Regions from separate parts of the Homo sapiens genome. Here region 2 is linked to region 1. Evidence: fine-mapped expression QTL. A gene starts in region 1. The other region holds a variant in brackets. All regions are shown on one strand. Distances are between the middles of the regions.

Evidence for each region. PIP is the estimated chance that this variant, and not a neighbour inherited with it, causes the effect.
Region 2: its variant is fine-mapped to the expression of CTNS in lung (TOPMed, PIP above 0.99).

The regions. Positions count from the first base shown.
Region 1 is chr17:3,635,515-3,638,483 of GRCh38, forward strand. It overlaps CTNS (cystinosin, lysosomal cystine transporter), which reads left to right and starts at 1,246. Exons shown (of 12, transcript NM_004937.3): 1 at 1,246-1,317; 2 at 1,593-1,802. It overlaps SHPK (sedoheptulokinase), which reads right to left and starts at 736. Exons shown (of 7, transcript NM_013276.4): 1 at 538-736. The coding sequence starts at 705. RefSeq lists silencers at 452-511, 1,522-1,611 and an enhancer at 992-1,241.
Region 2 is chr17:3,657,079-3,659,900 of GRCh38, forward strand. CTNS (cystinosin, lysosomal cystine transporter) reads left to right here. Exons shown (of 12, transcript NM_004937.3): 10 at 927-1,097; 11 at 2,780-2,822. Among named protein-coding and RNA genes, the nearest start is that of TAX1BP3, 10 kb to the right of the region's middle. The variant C/T (reference allele first, on the strand shown) is at 1,470.

The DNA.
Region 1 (2,969 bases):
GTGAGCCACCGCGCCCGGCTGACCAAAGGTTTCTTGGTCCGCATTCTGCTTCTGTGGAATGAGCCAGGAGCCAGTTAGGCCTGATTTGACATCTGATTTCCGGAGGAAAACCCAGACTCTGCCCTGGGCAACAAACTGAATCCTGAACTTGAGGTCACAGGGCAGGTGTGAGGAGCGGAGAGCAGCAAGAGTGAAAGGGAGGCCTGTGGTCATTCCATACACACAAGAGATCAGTTCCTCCAAGGTCAGGGGACAGAGAGCACAGGGATCCAGCGCCAAGCGCAAGGCCCCCAGAAGAAGCCAGAGAGTCGGGGAGGGGGCGGGGGGGAATCGGTCCCAGCAGGTGGGAAGGATTCTGGGACCAGACCTAAGGGATCATGAGCACAGCTGCTGCAGGCAGACGGGCCCCTGGAGAAGCTGGGGACAAGCTGGAATAGAGACTTCATTGCGGGAAGGGCTGTCAGGGAGGCCTCCTGGGGTGGAAAAGGGTGGTCAGGAGGCTCCTGGAGGCGGCGCGGCCCCGGGGGTCCAACTCACCTGGGGCCCGGCCACCGCGCTCTCGACCGCCGCCTCTGCCCGCGCAGCACGGGCACAGCTCGCCAGCACTGCGAACCCGGATGGGTCGTCGGGCGCGGCCCTCAGCAGAGCTGCCTTCACAGATGTGGTGCCCAGGTCAATGCCGAGGGTGATCGGCCGCGCAGCCATTATCTCCCTGACCCGCGCAGCTCCAGTCTGCAGCCAGCGGCCCCACAAGTCCGCGCTCTTCGCCCAGGGGGGCGGGGCAGGGGCGGGGAGTCGCCTGCCAATCTTTCAGCCACACCCAACATGGAGGCTTCTCGTCTTCCCACTGGCCGGGGAAGGCGAGCTTCCACGCAACCTCTCGGCGGGCCCCGGCTATAGGCGGAGAGGCGGCGGAAGGCGGGACCTAAAGGGGGCCCCGCCCCACGGGCTCTGATTTCCGCCCAATGGAGGGCGGTCTGAGCTTCGCTCACGAAAGGAGCCGGGAGGCGCTGGCGGCTCCAAGAGTCTCTGTGTCCCTGGCAGCGGACCTCATCTTCCCTCACGCCGGAGCCCCGATCTCTGCGCCCCGGCCCGACCCAGCTGCGCTCTGTCCGTCTAAGACGCGCGGAAACTACAACTCCCAGAGCTCATCTCGCCGAGATCCGGCCCCACGAGTCAGGTGGCGGAGGTCAGGTGACAGCGGACCCGCCTCTCCCAAAGTCTAGCCGGGCAGGGGAACGCGGTGCATTCCTGACCGGCACCTGGCGAGGCTCATGCGTCCCGTGAGGGCGGTTCCTCGAGCCTGGGGGCGCTCAGGTGAGAGCGGACGCGGCCTCCCCTGTTTCCCAGGCGGACCCCTTGAGGCACAGCAGGTCAGCGGGGCAGCCTGCCGGGGGTCCAGCGCCCTCAGCCGCGGCGGGCTCCTTTCCCCGCCACCAGTGCTGGCCTCGCGACACGGGACAACCCCCGGGTGGAAGGGCCCGAGCGGTGGTCAGCCGAGGCAGGGGCAGCGGGCTGCCGGGGTGGGTGCCGTTCCCAGCCCCTTACCTTCTGCTCAGTTGCCGCCTGGGTCTCGGTTGGGGAATTTGCAGATTGCTTTGGAGACGCTGAGAGAACCTTTGCGAGAGCGCCGGTTGACGTGCGGAGTGCGGGGCTCCGGGGGACTGAGCAGCACGAGACCCCATCCTCCCCTCCGGGTTTTCACACTGGGCGAAGGGAGGACTCCTGAGCTCTGCCTCTTCCAGTAACATTGAGGATTACTGTGTTTTGTGAGAGCTCGCTAGGCGCCCTAAGCAACAGAGGTAACCACTTTATATCCTTGTTTCTCAACCTCGTTATTCCTACCTACCCCCTTCCCATAAAATTTAATACCACTAGTACGCTGTGTATTTGTTTCTGTGGCCACAAACCATTGTAATAGCTAGATTTCTTCACTACCACCCCAAGCCAATTTTTTTTTTTTTTTTGAGATGGAGTCTGCAGCCTCTGTCACCCAGGCTGGAGTGCAGTGGCGCGATCTCGGCTCACTGCAACCTCCGCCTCCGGGGTTCAAGCGATTCTCCTACCTCAGCCTTCCGAGTAGCTGGGACTACAGGCCTGAGCCACCATGCCCAGCTAATTTTTGTATTTTTAGTAGAGATGGGGATTCACCATGTTGGCCAGGCTGGTCTCGAACTCCTGACCTCAGGTGATGCGCTCACCTCGGCCTCCCAAAGTGCTGGGATGACAGGCGTGAGCCACCGCGCCCAGCCTACCCCCAGCCAATTTTAGTCCCACTTGACAATGCGTGCTTTACATCTCCTCATTTAAGTCCTGTGAGGTAGTTACCACCTCCTTGTTTGGCACCACAAGGTCGCATAAGTAATAAATAGGTCAAGCCTGTCTCCAGTGCACACAGCCCTTGCCACTATTTGTGTACCCTCTCCAAAAGCAGGAGACCCAGGGAGTTCCAGGTCGTAGAACAGAGGACAGGACCAACTCATACCTGGCAGACAGGAGCTGCCACACTAGACCCCTAGCCCCAGGTTGCTCCTGGGAAGGGACTGAATGGGTGAGGAGCCTTCTTGAAACATGTGACATCTGAATGAGGCCTGGACAATAGTTAGAACTTACATAGGAAGGGCACGCCAGACAGAGCCCATTGTCAGGAGATACTTCATTTCTATCTTGTAGCTTTCACAAGCCACTAGTTGTATGTAATTATCAATCTGGTTTTTTTTTTGTTTTTTTTTTTTAATTTGAGACGGAGTTTCACTCTTATCACTCAGGCTGGAGTGCAATGGTGCAATCTCGGCTCACTGCAACCTCCACCTCCCGGGTTCAAGCGATTCTCCTGCCTCAGCCTCCTGAGTAGCTGGGACTACAGGCACATGCCACCACGCCTGGCTAATTTTTGTATTTTTAGTAGAGACGGGGATTCACCATGTTGGCCAGGCTGGTCTCGAACTCCTGACTTCAAGTGATCCAAC
Region 2 (2,822 bases), 21 kb after region 1:
GGAGGAGGGAGGAGGGCACAGAAGGGAGGAGGGAGGAGGGCACAGAAGGGAGGAGGGCAGAGGAAGACGCTTGGTTGGGCTCCAAGGATGAGTGAAGTTCCTATGGAGGAGGGGAGGGGCCAGGGTGGGCTCCTGGAGGGGTCAGGTCACAGAGGCCAAGGGGCATTTGAGAGGGACCCTGAGCAGGCGGGTGCAGCTGGGCTTCAGGGTGCCAGGAGGGGGCCCGCGTGCAGGCGGAGACACCTGTATTCAGCTTTGTTGCTGGAAGCCATGGGTGTCGGCAGGGCAGGGCCCCACCAAGGCTGGGTCCGGGGACCCCTGATATGACAGCTTTGCTTTCCCTTCTCTCAGGGAGTTCCCTTCACACTGTAAGGCCAGCTGGGGGCTGTCTGGCCCCACCCGTATGAACCTTCTAGGCTTTCTTAGCTTTTGGTGTGAAGCGAGAGTGAAGGTGGCCCACATTGGGCCCGTGTTCAGGGAAAGGCAAGGCGAGGGGACAGATTCCTGAGATCCTCAGGCTGCTGCCGGGTCGTGGGACGAGTCAGTACCTGGCTGGGAGAGGCACCAGGCCACCAGAGTTCCGACCCCACGTCTCCAAGTGAGTGCTGAGAGGCGCCCAGTTCTGCCAAGTAGGAACAAAGCAGACAGAGCTTGAGAGTCCAAGCAGCCTGAACAGGAGGCCCTGGCGATGAGAAGGTGTGGTTGGTGCTGGGGATGTCCAGCACCAGCCCAGGTGTGATGCTTTCTGTGGTCCACATGTTCCCCTGCCACAACCCCAGTGCAGCCCCCACCTTGCAGGGGCTCCTTCAAGGCCAGGGTCCAGCCTCCGTGCCCCTCTCTAAGCCCGCCCTATCCGGGGCCGTCCTTGCTCAGCCCCGGCGTGGCCTCTGTGTGGGTCCACATCTCTGCCCTCCTCTCGCCCCCAGCGCGGTGGCCAGCGCGTGTCCTGGCCTGCCATCGGCTTCCTGGTGCTCGCGTGGCTCTTCGCATTTGTCACCATGATCGTGGCTGCAGTGGGAGTGACCACGTGGCTGCAGTTTCTCTTCTGCTTCTCCTACATCAAGCTCGCAGTCACGCTGGTCAAGTATTTTCCACAGGTACCTCCAGGGCCCTGTTCACATGGCCGGTGGCAGGAGAGGTGAGAGCTACATGGCCCAGGCCCTGCTCCGGTGGGGCAGCTCCTGCCGGCGTGAGGAAACAGGACGGAAAGCCACAGGGAGCCCGGGAGCCCAGCGGGAGCGGGGCGGTGGGGAGGCCAGCCTGCCGCTCTTCCCCCGGGGCTGGAATCACAGGAGATCGCTAGCGGAGGCCCCTTGGACCCCACGCTCCCCTAAGCATCAGGTGTGCGGGTGGTTCCCCTTCTCCACACCCCAGCCTTTCCTGATGCCTTTGGCTCTGCCCTCACCACTGCCTCCATTTCCACAGCAGGACACTCTGGAGAGGTGAGGTGGGAGGAGGGAGCCCCTTCC[C/T]GCGCAGAGCTCAGCCCGTCCTATGAGCATAGCCGGTCCTCTTCAGATCCGGGGACTCAGGGTCCAGCACATCTTGCCCCACAGCCTGGGACAGGGTCAGGGCTGAAGTTGCTGCACCCGGGGACCTAGGGCCTCATTTAACTCACCCCATTCCCAAAGGGAGAAGCCTTGTTCCAGTGCCCCCAGCCCTGGGAGCCTCGTGTTCTGTGAGCTCAGGAGGGCCAGCGTTCTGACTGGGAGGCAGGACTGGACTCTTAGGCTGAGCAGGACTAAGTTCTGTGGCCAAGGAGCCCGGGCGTTCCGGGCCAGGCCAGCCTGCACAGAGGCTGGGGCGGGACACGGGGCGGCAGTGAGGGGATGTGGCTGGTTGAACAGTGTTGAGCATGTTGAAGCTGGGAAGCTGGGGTCAGGTCCCGGGAGCTGGGGGGGGCTTCCGAGGAGGGGAAGGTTTGGGGAAGTGGGCCCCAGTCCCTGAGGGTGGGAGGGATTGGGGCCAAGAAACCGGGGATGGAGGAGCCCAGGTTGGAGACGTTTGGAACTGCTGGAGGGGCAGCAGCAAGTACGGAAGAGGGTGAGCCGGGACACAGACAGGGACTGACTAGAGGCTCACTGGGAGGCCACCAGAGAGGCCAGGACCTGCCTCACGGGGGGAAGGAAAGGTCACAGCAGTCAGAGGACCCACAGGGCTCTGCAGCATGGGAGGACGTGGGGCACAGGCAGTCAGACTGGGGCGCATCCCCGCAGACCCGCCCCCCCAACCAGACCCAGGAAGCCCCGGCCAGGCCTGTGGGGGGCGTTAACCCCGCTCTACAGACGGGGAAACCAAGGCTAGGAGAACTGTCACTTGCCCAAGACAGCAGGCTCCGGTGATGGAGCCAGGATTCCAAACCAGAAGTCCCACTCCCACCAGTCCCTAAGCACATGAAGTCCAGGCTGAGTTTGGGGACAGCCTTGCCTGGAGGTGAGAAGAAGAATCATAGCTACAGGGAAACTAGCACAGGGCCTTGGCCCCAGGGATGTGGAGGAGACGGGGAAGGCCGCATCGGCCCCGCCTCTGCTGGAGCTGTGAGGTGTGGGGGGTGCGGGGCCTTTGCTTGCTGTACATGCAGATGAGACGCCTACCCCCAGGACCACCCAAACTGTTCCTTGGCTGAGGCCTGTCATAGCCCAAAGGTCACCGTGTCCTTGGAGCCAAGGCCCCAGTGGGAGGAATGAGAACCGCTTTTGTTTGGAGGGGCAGTCACGAGGCGCATGAGGCAGCCGCCCAGCCCTCACCGCCCTCCGTCTGTCTGTCCGTCTGTCTGGCCCAGGCCTACATGAACTTTTACTACAAAAGCACTGAGGGCTGGAGCA